Regions from separate parts of the Homo sapiens genome. Here region 1 is linked to region 2. Evidence: fine-mapped expression QTL. Tissue or cell type: gastroesophageal junction. Region 2 holds a variant in brackets; the other region holds the start of a gene. All regions are shown on one strand. Distances are between the middles of the regions. Region 1 holds the start of ETAA1 (ETAA1 activator of ATR kinase). Region 2 holds the start of LOC107985891 (a long non-coding RNA gene).

Evidence for each region.
Region 1: ETAA1 starts here. The variant in region 2 is fine-mapped to the expression of ETAA1 in gastroesophageal junction (GTEx, PIP above 0.99). The same link has a PIP of 0.9 or more in stomach.

What each region holds. Positions count from the first base shown.
Region 1 is chr2:67,393,239-67,402,704 of GRCh38, reverse strand. ETAA1 (ETAA1 activator of ATR kinase) reads right to left here and starts at 5,372. Exons shown (of 6, transcript NM_019002.4): 1 at 5,034-5,372; 2 at 3,408-3,536; 3 at 3,079-3,155. The coding sequence starts at 5,256.
Region 2 is chr2:67,463,110-67,472,575 of GRCh38, reverse strand. LOC107985891 (a long non-coding RNA gene) reads left to right here and starts at 8,079. Exons shown (of 3, transcript XR_001739520.2): 1 at 8,079-8,552. RefSeq lists an enhancer at 8,205-8,785. The variant G/A (reference allele first, on the strand shown) is at 5,401.

The DNA of each region.
Region 1 (9,466 bases), 70 kb after region 2:
AGGAAGTTGGGAGATAGCAATAATAAGCTACAATAATTGATCCACTTATGTTTCAGAGAATGAAAACATTCAGAATTACAAATTGCTTATTTTAAAAAAATATTGTTTTAAGAATTAAATTTATCAAATGTACATTTAATAACAGAAGCATGTTTTTATCAAAAGAAAATTGACATTTTAATTGTCCTAAGATACTTATAAAAACATTAGTGTCAGAAACTGTGTGGCAGAAATCATCAGAATTGAGAGGAGATACATATGGAATTCTTTCTGTATCATCTGTTTCTCCAAATTTTCTTTATCCTTATTATAATCTTTATCTAAAGTTGGACAATCCATGTTGACCTAAATTAAGAACACTCAGAATTAAGATCAGGAATGAATTAAGAGATAAGAGCAAGGTTAGAACTGATGCTAAGAATGAGACAGGAATAAGAATAAAAAAATAGAGAAAACAGAAAAGTTTAGCCCAGATAATATACAGAAAAAAGGCATTTTAGACCTGGATACTTTTGCTGTACCTTTCAGTCACTTGATCACACAAAAAAATTACAGAATGAGCTTTAGGCATTAATTGCAAACCAAACCAACAAATCAAATCAAGTAACCATTTTCACTCTATTTTATAGTACCTAGAATGAACATAAATATCACACAATTTAAAAAATAATTTTACTACTAGATTATAGGCTACTCAAAGGCAAGGACTCTTCTTAGAATAACTCAGCATCCAGCACAATATTGGGCATACCAGTGTCAGTATACATTTATTTACTAGAAGATTTAGGTGAAAAGATCCCTACAGTTTGGTACTTCAAATCCTCAATGAATCAAAAAAGTTTTCTTAATGTCAACTTGAACCTAGTTGCCTTTAGCTTTGCAAATACTCAAGAAAATCAGTAATTTCACTTTCAGACTCAATATATTTTCCCTTTTATTTCAACAATCTTGAATTTAAAGACAATCATAGTCTTAATTATGAACTCTGCCATTTACAAAAGTAATTTTAAATTCATTCAATTTTCAGAGAACTAAATTATGACTTTATGTACCCAACTTTACATATACATGGGTCCTATGTATGTTTGTATACTATTTATACATGTTATTACATATTTCTTCATGAATAATTACATAATTTATTGATTTTCAACCATAATCCAGGTGCTGTATAAGGTATCTAAATGCATTACTTCATTTCATTATAAAAAGTATACTGTGCAAAGCTGTATAAATGAAGATACATACCATCTTCAAATAAACAACATTGTATAAAAGTATCCCTGCAAAAAGTGAACTGACTGTCCAACCAAAATAAAAGCGCATATTTAAAAAAATGCTATCTCTGAAAATGTTAAAACTAAATGATTTGAGAATGACTCACCTAAAAATAAACAATATAAGTATTTGTCATTCTGAGAACATGACAAGCTTTCAAACAGACCTTGAAACTGCTAAAGATTTATATGCTTTAAAAGTACTCAGTTTAAGAGGGTAACATTTTAAAGCTACTAATTTCACTATATTTTTTTCTTTTATACAAGTTACCACTTGCGTACTGTTGTCATTTCTTTATATGAGCTATTATTTCTAGCCCACTTAGGTAAAGAGTCCAATAATTTATTCACAACTATCTTTTTATCACTATTTAGACTGGCCCACCCAAACACATTTTATTATGCTTCTTTCATGTGAAACCCACAATTAATGAAGATCTATTGTTAACTTATAGAGTAAGTACTATTATGGCATAAATGCTATTTAACTAATTAACTGTAAGTAAAATGAATTTCTATGACATGCTAAAAATGGAATGTAGAGCTAGTAGCAACAGAGTTGTTTTGACTGTGCTAGGTGTAATTTTGGATATTTTATAGCTGCTAAGAAAAACTTCATTTTCTGTCTCTTCCACCTGGGTGACAGTAATTCTTCAAACCATGTTTTGGGCCAGTGCCATCTATTGTTTATGGTCAACATATAGTAACTATTCAAGCGCAGGTTAAGGAAAAATGGCATACTTCCTTCAGAGAAGACACTAAGCAAAAATGTTCTCTGGATTTAAATGTTAAATAAGAAAAAGAGAACAAAAAGTAAAGAAGTTCAGAACAGTTTCACGTATTGAGCCTTTGCTTCTTAGTAATTATAATATTAGAGTTACTGGATTGCTTTGTGTCAAATGATTGACTTGAACATATTTCTATTTCACTCAAACAATAAAAGAACAGAAATGAAAAAAAGAAACGAAACACTCAAAAAAAAATTTTTTTTAAGAGACAGGGTCTTAAACTCCTGGCCTCAAGCAATCTTCCTGCCTCAGCCTTCCTCCCAAAATGCTGAGATTACAGGAATGAGTCACCATGCCTGTCCAAGAAAAGAAAAAAAAGCTTTGGAGATGGTTCTATTACAGTAACAACCTTAACGTAACCTTACAATTATAGCACTCTATAGTTTACAAAGAATTTTTATCTAGTTTAATTCTCATAATGATCCAATGAAGACAGCAAGAGCAACACAATAATTCTAGTTCATGGCTGAATGAACTGAAGTGGTGGGAGTTTAAATAACTTGCACTGGGTCACACAGCATAGGAGGTTGAATGAGGACTAAATTTGAATTCAGTGCTCTCCACTTTTGTAAGTGTTTCTTGATAATCTTATAAGGAAATGAGTATTAATAGTTTCAATGGGGAAATGTTACAGACAGGAAGTACCAATCACAAAACAATCATAGAAGTATAAACTTTTTTCACTGCCTTATTCTATTATTTTAGCAACTTGAAAAATGATGTCGTATGTTGTTAAGCACAACATTACAGATAAACACAATGCCCTAGTCAAAAATTACTCTAAAAAATTAAAACAAGATATATACTTAAGAAAATATCTTGTATTTTATATTATATTCCTTTTTTCAAAATATGTATTTCAAAAGTAGAAAAGGCAAAACAGTAATCTTTGCTGCCTTATTTTTGGAAAAAAGAATTATAATAGACAATACTTTTCATTTAAAGAAACTACAAAAACTTAGTGGCACATTCTTCACTGTTTTAAAACAAACTGTAAAACTAGTGATATTTACCTGAGGAGCAATACGATTAACAATATGTGAAATCTCATCACTATCTGTGGTGTAAATCTGTTTTTTTCTTCCTTTACCTAAAGAAACAAAGACATTTCTATAAATTTTAAACAAAAAACCCTCCATTTTAAAAAACAGCTGTCACTTCTTAGAAAGTAATTTTATTTAGTGCAGCTTAGAGGATTATGTGTTTACATCACATACTTATACAGATAAAATCATATAACATTCTCAGAGGTTCCCGATGCTATTATCTGACTAGAATTCTAGTTAAATCTGAATCATTTATCAAATATTTACTCACATAAAAAATGTTAATAATTAATTACCTAACTGCTTTGTCAATGGAGAATTCTGATCCCAAAAGATATCATTCTGTCCATCTGGATCATTAGGAGAACTGAAGGAAGATGACAGTGAGTCCATTTTCAGCGCTCTCTTTGGTGTTTCATACCTTTCTATATAAAATATGAGTAAAATAACAATTGTTGCATTTTAAAGCATTACCTTACTTCGTAAGACCCCAAGGTCAAATAGCTGAGACTAACTTTTATAGTCCAAGATAATTTTTTTTCCCAGAGATAATTACCTGAACCGTAACAGAAATGCTTGTTTCACATAAAAATCCACGCGGCACTTCGCAAACTTCACATTGTAAATAGCAAACACTTCTAGATAATCCAGAAGCTTTATGAATGCATAATACAATACTGTATAACCTAAGTCATTCTATTTATTACCATTGAGTCTTGGAGGCTTTGGGGAACCATCTGTAATTTATAGGTACATTCAAAAATCCAAAGTAACCCAACAGAAACCTAAATATGTTTAGCCCCCTTTCACCAACTCTATCTAATCTACATTAATTGCCATTCTTCAAAAACCATTAGTGATCCAATGCTTGGGAATTTTTGTCTAGAATCACTTTCAAATTTTTATAAAGATTTTTGTTCATTCCCAAATTGCTTTATAGGAGTATTATTAAAGACATGTAAGGTGGCCGGGCGCGGTGGCTGTAATCCCAGCACTTTGGGAGGCCGAGGCGGGTGGATCACGAGGTCAGGAAATCGAGACCATCCTGGCTAACACGGTGAAACCCCTGTCTCTACCAAAAATACAAAAAATTAGCCGGGCGAGGTGGCACACGCCTGTAGTCCCAGCTACTTGGGAGGCTGAGGCAGGAGAATCGCTTGAACCCGGGAGGCGGAGGTTGCAGTGAGCCGAGATTGTGCTACTGCACTGCAGCCTGGGCGACAGGGCGAGATTCTTTCCCAAAAGAAAAAAGACACGTAAGGTATAAAAAAAAAAAAAAAAAAAAAAGCACTATTTCAAGAACATGCTCCAGAATAAAGGCTTTTGTATGAGTTTCAGTTCCAACTAAGATTTACTAGAAGTCTTTTAAAAAGTAACACCTAAAACTAATCGAGACGAAAGAGATCCTTAGTATCTTATTTGGAGGGATGTTACACACAGGAACTTCCGGTTTATTCACAATGAGGTGAGACATCTACCAGGCTTTGAGACAAACTTTAACTTTTCCTATGAACTCTTCTCTAAAGCAGGTCACAGGGAAAAAAAGGGTTTAAAGAGAAATAACTTCTCCGGGCAAAAACTGAGGTTAGCGGGCCTATCAGCTGTTTCTTCTCACTCCACCACTGCTGCTGACTGGAGGAGCAGCCTGGAAAGCAGCCGCCCTCCCGCAAACAGGTAAACCACATTACCTATTCCTGTGGCGGAGGCAAATGGATGGTCAAACCTAACGGGGTAGTGCTGAAGTTCGGGGACAAAAGCCCATCGGGGAGTGGTATAGGATTATTTTTGGACTCTCGAGGGGTGAATCCCAGAGACAGAATACACGCTCCAGACTCCACCCCCACCCCAGATTTCCCTGTTGCAAGCTGGGATGTGGGGATGCGGCGCCGAAGCCAAGGCAGGCCGCGCTGCCGACGTCTCACCCTCGGGGTTACTTTTACTGCACAGGGCGGCGGTCGGAGGCTGCTCTCGCTGCCGCACTGGCCCGGGAGGCCCCTCTCTAGCCCCGCAGGGCCACGAACCGCGGGCCGATCTCAGCCGCCTCCTCCCTGGCTCGACCACCGAGCCGCATTCCTCCGCCGCCACTGTTTTGTGCGGCGTTTTCTTCGGGCTAGGGCTGTCATCATGTTTCCTTCGCCGACTCATTGCCTATGGCCCGCCTCCACCAGCCGCTTCTTCTTTCACATTTTGCAAAGGGATGAGTAGGGCAACAGCACTACAAACCGCACCCCGCACCAACGGCAGCCGCCATTTTGGTCGGTGGGGCGCGCGCAAGAGGCGGCCGCTGATTGGCTGGGTCCGGGAGAGGGGCGGAACTGTTAAGGTGCCGAGGGCGCGCGCACTTCCGCAGCCGGGACAGGAGCCTGCTCTGGAGGAGTGTCTAGGCTCAAAATCCTCCAGACTGGTGGGGGTTGTTCGGGTAGTAGTCAGGTCCGCGTAAACTGAGAGTGGGAGCTTGTGAGTTGGAAAGATTGAATACACTAGCAACTTTTTATTGAATTTACAACGAAAATTGCACGTTAGTCAAATTCAGATTATTGAGAGTCTTCGAATTTCTCAAGAAGAGGAAATACAGTTAATTTTTCATAGATGCTATGTGCATAGAAAAATCCAAAAGAAAGTAGAAAAAATTACTAAATTAATTTAAGAGTTGCTGGATACAAAGTCAATATTCAAAGATCAATGTGTTTCAATAGATTAGCAACAGATATAAAATTGAAGTTTTAAAGAGATACTATTTATAATAGTGCATGAGATAGCAAGTAACTAGGAATAAGTTAAAGATTGTCCTTCCTACAAAGAGAACTATAAAACATTTTTGAGGCCGGGCGCCATGGCTCAAGCCTGTAATCTCAGCACTTTGGGAGGCCGAGGCAGGCGGATCACGAGGTCAGGAGTTCAAGACCAGCCTGACCAGCATGGTGAAACCCCGTCTCTACTAAAAATACAAAAAATTAGCCGGGCATGGTGGTGCGTGCCTGTAGTCCCGGCTACTGGGGAGGCCAAGGCAGGAGAATTGCTTGAACCTGGGAGGCGGAGGTTGCAATGAGCCGAGATTGCGCCACTGCACTTGCAGTGAGCAGAGATCGCGCATCTGCATTCCAGCCTGGGCGACAGAGGGGGACTTCGTGTAAAATAAGTAAATACATACATACATACATACATACAAAAATTAGCCAGGCGTGGTGGCGGGTGCCTGTAATCCCAGCTACTTGGGAGCTGAGGCAGAGAATTGCTTGAACCTGGGAGGTGGAGGTTGCAGTGAGCCGAGATTGCGCCACTGCACTCCAGCCTGGGCAACAGAGCAAGACTCCGTCTCAAAAAAAAAAAAAATTTTTTTTTTGAAAGAAAACGAAGACCTAAATAAATGGTTACACTATGTTCATGGGTTGTGAGACTCAATATTGTTACAATGTCAGCTATTTCCAAACTGACCTATAGATTCAACATAAATACATATGAAGGCCCAGTGTGTGACTGTGTGTGTGTAACATGGTAAGTTTTTTCTAAAATTTATATGAAAATGCAAGGGACCAAAAATATCAATAAACTCTTGAAGATCTCTCGAAGAATAATGAGGGTTGATATCTACCAGGTATCAAGACTTATATGGTAATTAAGACAGTGTTATGATGGTGTCAGGATAGACAAAGATGAAAGAAACAGGATAGCACAGAAACAGACTTCCATATAAATGAACACGATTTAAGACAAAGGTGACCCTTCTGAGCAATGGTAAAAGGACTTTTGAAATTAAATAGTGCTTGGTCTATTTGATGTTCATGTAGAAAAAGAAAGAAACATGACCTTTACCTCAAACTTTATCCCCAAATCAGGTGCATATATATTCATTATAAATTTAATTGTAGAAGATAAAATAACATTTTAGAAGGTATAAATTGTCTTCATGACAGAACGCATTTGAAATAAAACAAAGGTCACCAGGCATAATTATAAATGTGACTACACAAAATTGATAATTTGAGAACTTCTGTCCATTCAAAAACAACATTAAAGAGAAGGAAGGGCAAGGCACAAATTGGGAGAAAATATTTATAAGACATATTTAAGGGCCTATATATAGGTTATATGAAGAACTGATACAAATCACTAAGGAAATGATTGACTGTCAAAACCAAAAGTGGATGAGACCCTTGAGCAGGATCTTCACAAGAGAAAATATTATCAACAAACTTATGGAAAAATCAGATTCATTTTTAATCAGGAAAATGCAAATGAAAACCATATCAGAATGGCTAAAGTTAAAAAGACTGACAATATAGGTATTGAGGCAGTAAACCAATGGAAGCTGTCACGTACTGCTGGTGAGAGTATAATTTGGCACAACCACTTTGGAAACCAGTTTTTGATCTAGCAATCCCACTCTGAGGAATATTCTCTGTTTAAATGCATGGACTTGTTCATCAAGATACAGTTTATAAAAATGCTTTGGTGGGATGCAGTGGCTTATGCCTGTAATCCTAGCACTTTGAGAAGCCGAGGCAGGTGGACTGCTTGAGCCCAGGAGTTTGAGACCAGCCTGGGCAACATGGCGAAAACCCATCTCTACAAAAAATACAAAAAATTAGCTGGGCATTTTGGCGCATGGCTGTAGTCCCAGCTACTAGGAAGGAGAATCACTTGAGCCCAGAAGTTGACTTGCTGTGAGTCATGATTGTGCCACTGCATTCCAGCCTGGGCAACAGAAAAAAAAAAGAAAAAACAAAGAAGAAGAAAAATGCTTTTAGCAGTAAAATTCAATTCAAAATTACTTCATACTGTAAGTGGACCAAATGCTTTCCAACAGTAGAATGATAAATATATTGAACTATATTCACACAACAAAATAGCAATGAAAATGAAAACTACAACTCTGTGCGACAACATGGATAAATCTGACAAACATAAAGTTGAGCAAAAAAAAGCTAGACCTCCCAACCCTCCTCCATAATGTTAAATAAATCCCATATAAATTCCATCAGGCAAAGTTCTACTATATTGTATAGGGATGTAAGCTTTAGTGTTAAAATGATAAAGAAAAATCTAGGAATGATTACCATAAAGGTCAGGATAATAGTTACCTTCGGGAGGGGGAAGGGACAGTGATTAGAAGTGGACAGAGGGAGGAGAGAATTTCATGTATTTATTGGCTTTGTTTATTTTCATGTTCTAGTTGTTAATTACAAAAGTATTTGCTTTGTGGTAATCTACTGAGCTGTACATTTTGTTCATTTTCTACACACATGTTATATTTATCAATTAAAATGTTTAAAATGTTAATGTAAGGCAAAGATCTTAGTTCCTACTGAGGAGCTGATATATTTCTTCTATCTTGTAAACTATTCTGTTTTTACTCTTTAATTTTGCTGACAGAAATCCTAGAACTAAATTTGAGATTCAGGGCTAGCAGTTATATAAACCATATAAACCGTTGTGAATAGATAATTCCATTATTTTTCCTCAGTGTTTGACCTTCTACTAATACTTTTTCTTTCCATGATTGTTTTTTACCTACATGTATTTAAACCATTGTTTAGTTTTATTTATTTATAACCGGATAAGACTGGAATACAAGTGATATTACATCTTTTAAAATTCAAATTAATTACTTGAACCTTCACTTGTATAAATTAGCAGGAATATTACTATTTCTCTCAGAGATCTCTCCTACCTCTCAAATGACCAAAAATCCTAGAAGCATTAAAAAAAATGTAAAAAGAACTTAATTTACCAAATAAATATCCAACTCACATTTAGAAAGTAATTAAGGAAGTTTAAAGAATTTAGTGATGTTTATAAGAGAAATAACCATGTAGTAATCCTTTAAAGCATATTAATGCTGCAAATAAAATAACAGTGAATACTTTACCATAACTCCAAATTCTATAGTGCCCAAGTAACCATTGCTGAAATGAACAACTTGAGCCTAAAGTACAGACGTGTTGTCTTAACACACCTAGGATGGCTGTAACCTGTAATCATTATGGGGTAGGAAATTATAGTAAATTTTAACTTGAAAATTACTTACTTTACATAATCTGTTACATTTCTAAGTGTACTTCAAATTAAATTTACTTCCTGACTATAGCTCCTGAAATAAGTATAACACAATTAACTCCTTAATAAAATGTTTTTAATGTGAAACAAAAGTCTTACAGATGTTTGAATGCAATATGATTCATAGCTCAGCATTTCTAGGCATTTGAATAATTTATACATATAAGTAAGGTTTACTGCAACTAAAAACTGTAATAAACCAAAGTGAAACTCTTGCTTGTTTCACTTACAGGGATTATTTATAAACTTGACAATAATTATTAAGGCAAAAATTGTGACACTGAAGGTCTGAGTTACT
Region 2 (9,466 bases):
CAAATCTGATTTTGAGAGAATGGAATGAAGAGTGTGAGGGGTGATCAAGAAATTTTTAATCAGTTGAGTGGAACATAGGGATGACGTCTACGTCCCAACCACATCTCCCCTAGCATGGATTCAGTCACTTCTGCTAATCTCACTTTCAATTACAAGCACAGGTTTTAAAGCCAGTGAATACTATAAGGTGTGTTGTCAGCTTGTTGTTTTTCTTTAAGCTACTCTGTACGTTCTGAATAATTACTTTGAAATGATTATTTTGAAGTTATACATTGGCTTTTTTAACTGCCATTGTCCTTGCAATTACAAGAAACACAGAATTTTCCACTCCTTCAAGATTGTTAAAAATCCTTACAGAAGAAACAGTCACACTCTGTGTGCCAAAGGGCACAAAGAAAGATGCATCAACTTTTAAATATCTATATTGCTCACTTTATACTACCTACCTTTTTGTACCATGTATAAAAATGTGTAAAATAATACAAATTTAAAATACATATATGTCTAGGTTAAGGAAAAAGCATACTGCACAAAAATGTCTTTGTATAAGTTCTCCATAAGATAGGGTTAGGAGATATTTATAGTTTTGCCGATGACTTAATACTTACTGCCCTAGGAATTCATTCATCCTTCCAACTGCCTTGAGAGGCCTTTGAAACAATAAAGCATATTTGTGACCACACTGGGAGTGGAGTCCAGGCCCCACATAGCAGACCTGAGACGCCTTGGCCCAAGGAGCTTAACTGATGTCAAATGTAAACCACTTTTCAAAAGCGTGTTATCAGGTCCACACCAGACTATCCATTTTGATAATCTCATTCCATTTTTCATTTTATTGTTGAAAGAAGAAATAGATTAATGAGAGTCTAAATCCCCCCAGAAAGAAAATCTTCCTTATAAGGCATGCCCGAAGAGAGATTTGAGAAAATTACTTGCTCTGCCTTTGTTTTGCCAAGTAAGGTAACATTTAGATCATTTATATTTGAAAAATTCTTAAGCCAGGTCAGTGTAGTCTGCTAGATTAAATCTGGAGGGGGAAAAAAAAACAAGAAGAAGATCATGAGGATGAGGATGATGACTACGACAACGATGATGATGTAAACTATAAATCTCCCAGACCCTGGTTTGCTTGTGTGTTTGAAGACTAGGGGCAAACCCCTGTGATCCATCTCAGATCCAACAAGAAAAAAGCGGCCCCAAATTGCATTTGAAAATGGTGCACCACATGAAAGAAACATTTGTCTAAAGAGAATTTAAAATGATCAGCTTCTAACTATACGAGAAATATTCTTTCAAGTATCCCAGAACAATAAGAGAAAGTCTTACAGAGAATGGTAATCAGAATCATGGAGTGATCTGTGACAGAACAGAAGGAGCCTTAGATAGAAATCATCATGGTAACATCATTTTGGTAATACCACATTGCTAACATCATTTTACAAATGAAGAAGTTAGAATCTAAAAAGGTACCCTTCACAGTTTCAGAAAACCTGCCTTCATTAGTCCTGTAGTGCAGTGAAGCTGAAGATTCCACAGCAGCTTCAGAAGGAAATACCAAGGTTTGAAAACTTCAGTGGCCCAAAGTTGGAACAAGAGCCCTGCCTTCCAGACCTCGAGACCAGAAGACTGGATTTGAAGCTCTATGAAAAATTTCATTTTTCAACCAATCGGAGGACAATTGGATGCTCAGTGCAGGTATAGTAAAGTGTTGTTTCTGACCAAATATTCCCACCCTCAATGAAGTTATAGAAAACCATATTCCTGCCCTAAACAAGTTTAGTATCCAAGGGTCATTTTTCAACTTTACTTCCTCCAAAATCCCAAGGTGATTCTCAGAGGTTATCACTGCTGTTAAAAATCCAAGGTTTCAGCAAAAGAAGCTCCATTTGGCTGATAGCAGAATTGCAATACTGGATTCTTTTTGTCACCCTTCTCCCCAGGGCATCACAGTGCCAGGCTCCTGTCAGTTTAATTGGGAACCACTGATATAGACAAATCATCAATGACACAGGAGTTCATAATAAATTGACTGTATTGGCCAGGCGCAGTGGCTCATGCCTGTAATCCCAGCACTTAAGGAGGTTGAAGTGGGCAGATCATCTGAGGTCAGGAGTTCAAGATCAGTCTGGCCAACGTGGTAAAACCCTGTCTACTAAAAAAAATTAAATAATTAGCTGGACATGTTGGCATGTGCCTGTAATCCAAGCTATTTGGGAGGCTGAGGTAGGAGAATTGCTTGAACCTGGGAGGCGGAGGTTGCAGTGAGCTGAGATCAAGATCGTATCATCGCACTCTAGCCTGGGGAACAGAGCAAGATTCCATCTCCAAAAAAAGAAAAGAAATGGACTGCATTGCCTCTGGAGGAGGGGCTGGATCAGATCTAGCTCATTATTTGCCATCAATAATTGGGGCACAGGCTATATGGTTGAAGCACTGCATCTCACTTGGATTATGTTCTATGCATCTTATTGTAGACATTCTGATATCTGTATTTAGAACCATCCAATATCTGTCACCACCATTCCCACAGAACACTGGGAGGAGAGCTGAATCTGTATTCACCTAGCACACACCACAAGAAGCAGTCTTGGCCACGCACAGCACATCATGCAAGTCGGTGAAGCCCCTTCTGGGACAGAAAGGGAGGTGCATAAAGCTGGATTCTGGCACAAAGTCTCAGCCAGGAAGGAACCACATGCGTTCTCTATCGGGTGAGCACTTTGCCTTGAGGTTTGGTGAGTTGCAGTGTTGTGCACCTAAGGCTGTCCCCATTAAGCTGCCTCCTAGCAAATTTAAAACCACTATGACACAGACACCTGTGCAAAAGGAAATTAACTAAGACCCTGCACTGATGTTCCCTTCGGAGCTCTTACCACCCTCTAAGAAGGGCTACATATCACCCTGTGAGAGGGCAGACATGGCTGTGGGAGCTGTCTAGACCTGCTGTGGTGAAGAAGGACTCTACTGTCTTAACATCGACTGTATTTCTTATGTCAGTATTGTCTCCCAATTTTAACATGACTGAATTGTTAAAGGATTTTTTTTTTTTTTTTTTTGCCTTGCCTACAAAATGACACAAGTCCTCTCCTTTTCTGGTTTCCATTATATTCCATTGTGTGGTCCTGCACAGAGTCAACTTTCATTCCAAGATTTTGCATTTCTATGTAATACTACTCAATAGCTATAGTGCATAAACATATGTTTAGGCACTTTGAGAAACATTTTTAAATTAAAATGCCTTATGTCAATCAGAGGCAGGCAGTATCCAGGATGTGCATGAAGCTGAGCGTGTGGATTATGTATTCCAGGGAAAACATCCTTGTAGTCATTGTGCATGCTCCATGGCCGCTTTTCAAGGTGAAATGTCTCTGCCACTAAAATAACATTTTTATTTAGTCAAGACACTAAAAGCAGTTAGAGGCCAGTATTGATTGATCACTTGCCAATGTTCAATTTTTAAATCAAAGTTATTTTGGACTTACTATTGTATGAGCTCCCCAAACATCCATAGTCACTTTATTTGCATTTTACATGTATTCAAAATAACTACTTACTTTCTCCCTTTAAAAAAATTGATTGAAGAAACATTTGCTCTCAAGATGAAAAACATTACACTGCAAAGCAATCTGTCATAGCTGAATGATGATTCCCTTGATATAATGGTTCTTAATGAAAATTGTGAGGAATTTTCTACTCTATAAGCTTCAAGAGGCTTGGGTATGGAGGACATGGGTCCCCCACCGCAGCAATAAGAATAACATAGGCCTTCCAGATATGCCCATCTTGAGAGGTGATGACATGTGCTTGTTTTTGAGTCCTCAAAGTTTGTTCCCTAATTATTTCAGATATTCTCTCCTTAGTAATTATTTTGGATGTTCTCCTCCCTCTGAAATAAGAGGAAAAGTCACTTTCATACAAAATACACAGTGTTGCAAAAGGATAGGACTGTAGCAATCTGCCAACAATTAGAGACGGAACCACGTAAACCAAAAAGCTCAAAGCTTATTAGTCATTATTGACATTATTTTTAAAGTTTTCAAGTGCAAGCACTAATTAAAAGGATAAGATTCTAACCGTTTAATTAAGTTTGATGAGTTATAGAATTTTTGAGGATGGTAAGCAAGTATTTGCCTGGGTTGCATCATCAAAGGCATCAGATGAAGAATTGTTTCAATCTAAGGCATGTTTCTCAATAAATGCTTCATTTACACAAGCTAGAATTTTCAATTCTTATCCAATGTTATATATAGTTGTCTAGATGAATCTTTGAATTACTGTGTAACTATTAATAACTGTTCACAATGCACATTGTATATCTACCTTGTACCTAAAGGCCATGATAATGATTATAGAAATAAAAATGAATGAAATGGTCCACATTCAAAGACATACTATCTAGTAAAGGAAACAGATGTAAAACAAACAAATACCATACAGTGTACCAATCTCATTTGTATCTGTACAAAGATAGCCCAGAGGAAGAAATGACAATTTTTTTTCTGTAGAAGTCAAGGAAAAGGTAAACCCAAGCAGAATCTTTATTTTATTTTATTTTATTTTATTTTATTTGAGATGGAGTCTTGCTCTGTCACCAGGCTGGAGTGCAGTGGCGTGATCTCGGCTCATTGCAACCTCCACCTCCCGGGTGCAAGCAATTCTCCTGCCTCAGCCTCCCGAGTAGCTGGGATTACAGGCACCCGCCACCACACCCAGCTAATTTTTGTATTTTTAATAGAGACGGGGTTTCACCATGTTGGCCAGGAGGGTCTTGATCTCCTGACCTCGTGATCTGCCCACCTTAGCCTCCCAAAGTGCTGGGATTACAGGCATGAGCAAATCTTAAAATATTAATAGAAGCATGCTACAGTCACAAAAGGAAGATGATTTGTACACAGGAAATAATGTTTAGGAGAGCATTAAAGAATGAAACACCAGAGAGAGAAAAAGGGAAGAGAGAGATACAAAACTTCAAACAGCTTTGTGTAGTTAGAACGCAGGCAGCAAGAGGAGGGAGATGAGGCTGGCCATGCTGTCAGGAACTAAATCATGCAAAGCCTTTTGTGCAATACAAAGAAACTTGGCTTTGATTCTGTGGACAATGGTGAACCATGAAAAAGTTTGTGATTTAAAAAATATTACTCTAGAGGCACTTTGGAGGCTGGATTAGGGATTTCAAGGGAGACAGATTAGAATCAGGAAGGCTCTATGGGTGGTCATTATATAGTCCAAATGAAAGATAAAGTGGATCTTAAATAGAGTGAATAAAATAAATATGAGAACTACTAGAAAGGAAGACTTGATTGATTGAATTTGGAGTCAGAGAGAGGAATGGAAGACTTTGAGCCTTAGCAAAGAACCTCGGTATAGCATTTAAGAAAGGGTGGCATTCACAAATGCAGA[G/A]GTTAGAGGTAGTCTTGAAATTGTTTTTAATTACTCATTAGCAGAAATGATCATTATTCTCAACTCATACTCAGGTTCCAGAGATAGGGAAGTGGCATGTTCCATCATACACCACCGCACTTGGCAGATTCCTGGGAAAACAATCAGTAACTCCCCTGTAGGCCCTGTGAGAACAGCTCAGAAGCTACAGTCAACAGAGTTGGGCCAGAGCTGTCCCTACTTAAAACAACCAGTAGGGATGAAAAAAATTCAGTAAGTCGTTTGGTTGTTTGGTCTACATGACACTGCCCCCTACTATCTCTGAACCTGGAAGAAAGTCCTACATACACACAAGCACACACAGAGACACACACAAACACATCAGAACAATTGGAGGAGTATTCTCACGGATATAATTGGATATTTTGACTGTAAATGCCATGTCCATGGAAACGAAGATGATCTCAGTACTGGGGAACCTACTCATCTCAAGAGCAAACATTTGTTTCAGATATGTTCTGAAATGCCAATATTTGTTAGAGGAGAATTTGCTTCTGGATATTTCTCTAATTTCTGCCTTTGCTGCTGTTGCTGTTCCAAAAATCTTAGGCTTTTCCAATACAATTATTCCCTGAATATAAAAATATAGATACCTAGCTATGACCCAGGTATTGTGATGAGTTTTACATAACTTACCTCATTTAATCCCCACAACGACCTACAGATATATACTGACACTATCCTAATTTTTTTTTTCTTGAGATGGAGTCTTTCTCTGTCCCCCAGGCTGGAGTGCAGTGGCACAATCTCAGCTCATTGCAAGCTCTGCCTCCTGGGTTGATGCCGTTCTCCTGCCTCAGCCTCCCAAGTAGCTGGGACTACAGGTGCCTGCCACCACACCTGGCTAATTTTTTATATTTTTAGTAGAGATGGGGTTTCACCATGTTATCCAGGATGGTCTCGATCTCCTGACCTCGTGATCTGCCCGCCTCAGCCTCCCAAAGTGCTGGGATTACAGGCGTGAGCCACCACGCCCAGGCCTATCTTAAATTTTTAGATAAAGAAACAGAAGCACAGAGAGGTTAAATGACTTGCGCAAGGTCACACAGCTAGGAAATGTACAGACAGGGTTCAACCCCAAGAAGCCTGGCTGCTTATCCAAATGATCTTATCCAAATGCACTTCCCATGTTCAGTTTATTTGGATTTACCATTGGACCATATTTCCTTGGACACAAGATTACAACACAACCATTTCAATTATTGCCAACCCTTTGTCATTTACAAGCTCAAAGTGCAAATCTGTAGTCACATGATCCCATGCAAATTTCAGAAAGCCTAAAATGATGAGCTCACACACCCAGTCTGGTGACTTTACATTGAGATCCAGCTAAACTGCATGAATTATCAAGGCTAAAATTAGGACTCTTACATCTTAGCTAACACCTGCCTCTCTCTGTGCTAAAATATAATTAGCTGCTTTTCCTGGGGGAAATTGTAAAACTGAATGCAATTAAACAAAAGGAGAGACAGCAGATTGTACAGCAAAACAAAACAAAACAAAAAGTACTTAAAAAGCCAAGATAGATACATATTCAAAGGTAGCAATTTCAGAGGCAAGGCAGACCTTTCTTATTTTGCAGTAATGTTCTGAATGGCAAAGAGCATGGCCTTTGGCACATGCTTGGTCCTCCATGTTTGTTCACTGCTATGCACACTGTTTGGGGTTGAATTAGGACTTTGGCAGGGCAGCCATTCTCTAGCTATGGTTGTATATTCATTGATGACCCCAAAAAGCAGGTGATCTGTGCCATCCAGTCCACATGCCTCACACCCAAATAGCCCAGTGGAAAGATCCCTCAAGTGCCACATGTGAGTCCTGGATGCTCGTAGAGGCTCTTGTGCTAGCTAAAGTTGTGGGATGTGGTTCCAGTTGCTTGACTTCTCTTGGTCTAGCTTTTCTTGCACTGAAATGACAAGAAAATGATCCCTGCCCTATTTTCCTCAGGAGAATACAGTGAGACTCAGAAAGGGCTAAAAACAAATAGGCCACTTTACTCAAGTTTTGCCAATGAAATGCCTAGAATACAACCATTTGTAGAAATAAGTTCACAAGTGGTTGAAAAGGCAATGAGCAAAATTCTAGGGGAAGACTCCATTACTTAAGACAAAGACATCACCTTTCCCAAACAGGATGTAGAAACTGCCACTGTCCAAAAGGTAGGCCAAAAAATAAAACCCACCAACAAGCAAACAAACCAACCCATGGTCCAGTCACTAACCATGAAAAGGTTTGTAAGTGCATCAGAGGAGATTAATCCTTAACTGGAGAGAAATAATAATCAAGGTATATGTGTACCACAAAACATTGTAGCTGGGAAAAAGAGACTTTAGGGAGGAGAAACAGGAAGAAGAAAACTAAAGCTTAGTGTTAGTCTCATACTACAACATGTCAGCCCAAGATACTATGGGCTGTTTTACTGAACAGGGCAAAGCTGCTTTAATTTAGCGGTGTTTATTTGGAAAGGTTTGCTATCCCAGTGCTCTTTGCAGTACACCACATATGCTGGTGTGTTTTTTGGCTGTACCTGGAGGCGTGCTGTGGGCTGACGAATGTCCAGGTGTGAAAATTCACGTTAGCCATGTATATGCACTGTGGATTTATTTCTTTGCACTTTTTTTGCCCTCCTAATTGAAATAGTAAAATTGACTATACTCAAAGCTTGAATAGTCCCCCAGACATTAGTGTTATAAATTAATGATTAGAAATATAATTCCTTGTATACGTCTTTCTGCCATCGCATCTTTCAAATGCAAAGTCAGTATGGAATAAGAATCAGAGAAATGTAACCTGACATTGAACTTGAAACCAAACACATTGACAAAACAAAAGAACACAAGCAGAAAAAAAGAAAAGGGAACTTTGAAAATCATCTTCATAAGGCATTCTGAATCTGCAACAATCTATTTTTCCAGATTAACAAATCTTGGTCTCTTCTAGGTGTTTTGAACTAGATTACTGACTGGCCATCTGTGGCAGGCCCACTCCTGGATGTCATGCCCCTGTTAATGAAATCTGGGCGTGCGCTCGTAAACAGACCTGGTGAATGGTAGACGTCAGCCATTGCGTGATGGACAATCATCAATCATCCATTGTCAGTTATTTCTGTCCCAGTGAGTAAGCCTTTATTTAAAGCATTAAGTAAGAATGTTGCCAGACCACAGGAACAAGCCCTGAGCTGTTTGCAGGTGCTGCTATTCACAGCTGCCAATTAAACCCCTGACATTTCCATATTGGCCATGAGGCACAGCATATGCTTTTGACATACCAATTCTTTAAAAAAAAAAAAATCACCAATCTCAGATTATCAATACATGCCTTTTTCTTTTTCCATGGTTACTACATGAAGCTTTTTAAAATTGTTTATTTTACAAATAGAGGAAGGAGAATCAGAAAAAGTTCTAGTGAACTGAATTATTAAGATGTGCACATAATATTCTTTCTTGTGGGAAAGTGGCTGGCATTTCTGATGTGAAAAGTCTTCCCTGATGCCTAAATCTACATAGCAAAGTCTCCTATCAGGACTTCAACATTAAAAAATATTTTTCTTGCCTTTTTACTTATATTTTTTTCTTTTTGATTCTCAAATAGTAATACTATTTTAATGTAATCCAGTACATTAAAACTAGATATTGCAATTTTGATTATGATTCTGTGTCTTTCATTGAGATGCAAAATGATTATAGTTTGCAAGTGTGCCTTGTATTTAAATAATTTCATGAAATTTGCAGAGACTTTTTATTTAGTCTCAAATGTAAGTACATGAAAGGGTGTGTTCCTAGGCAAAGGGTGTGTTCCTAGGCAAAGGGTGTGTTCCTAGGTAAAGGGTGTGTTCCTGTGTGTTACATCATGGCTTTACATTCACATATTTCCAGGTTGGAAGATAAAAGCATCCAACCACTCTCAGAGGATCATAGGCGTAGTGGATGTATTCACCTATAAGTACTATAAATAGGCAGGGGCAGGGGAGAAGAGCCTACATGCACCTTTCAGGAATATTTCACTGTTTTTTATTGATTTTCACTTT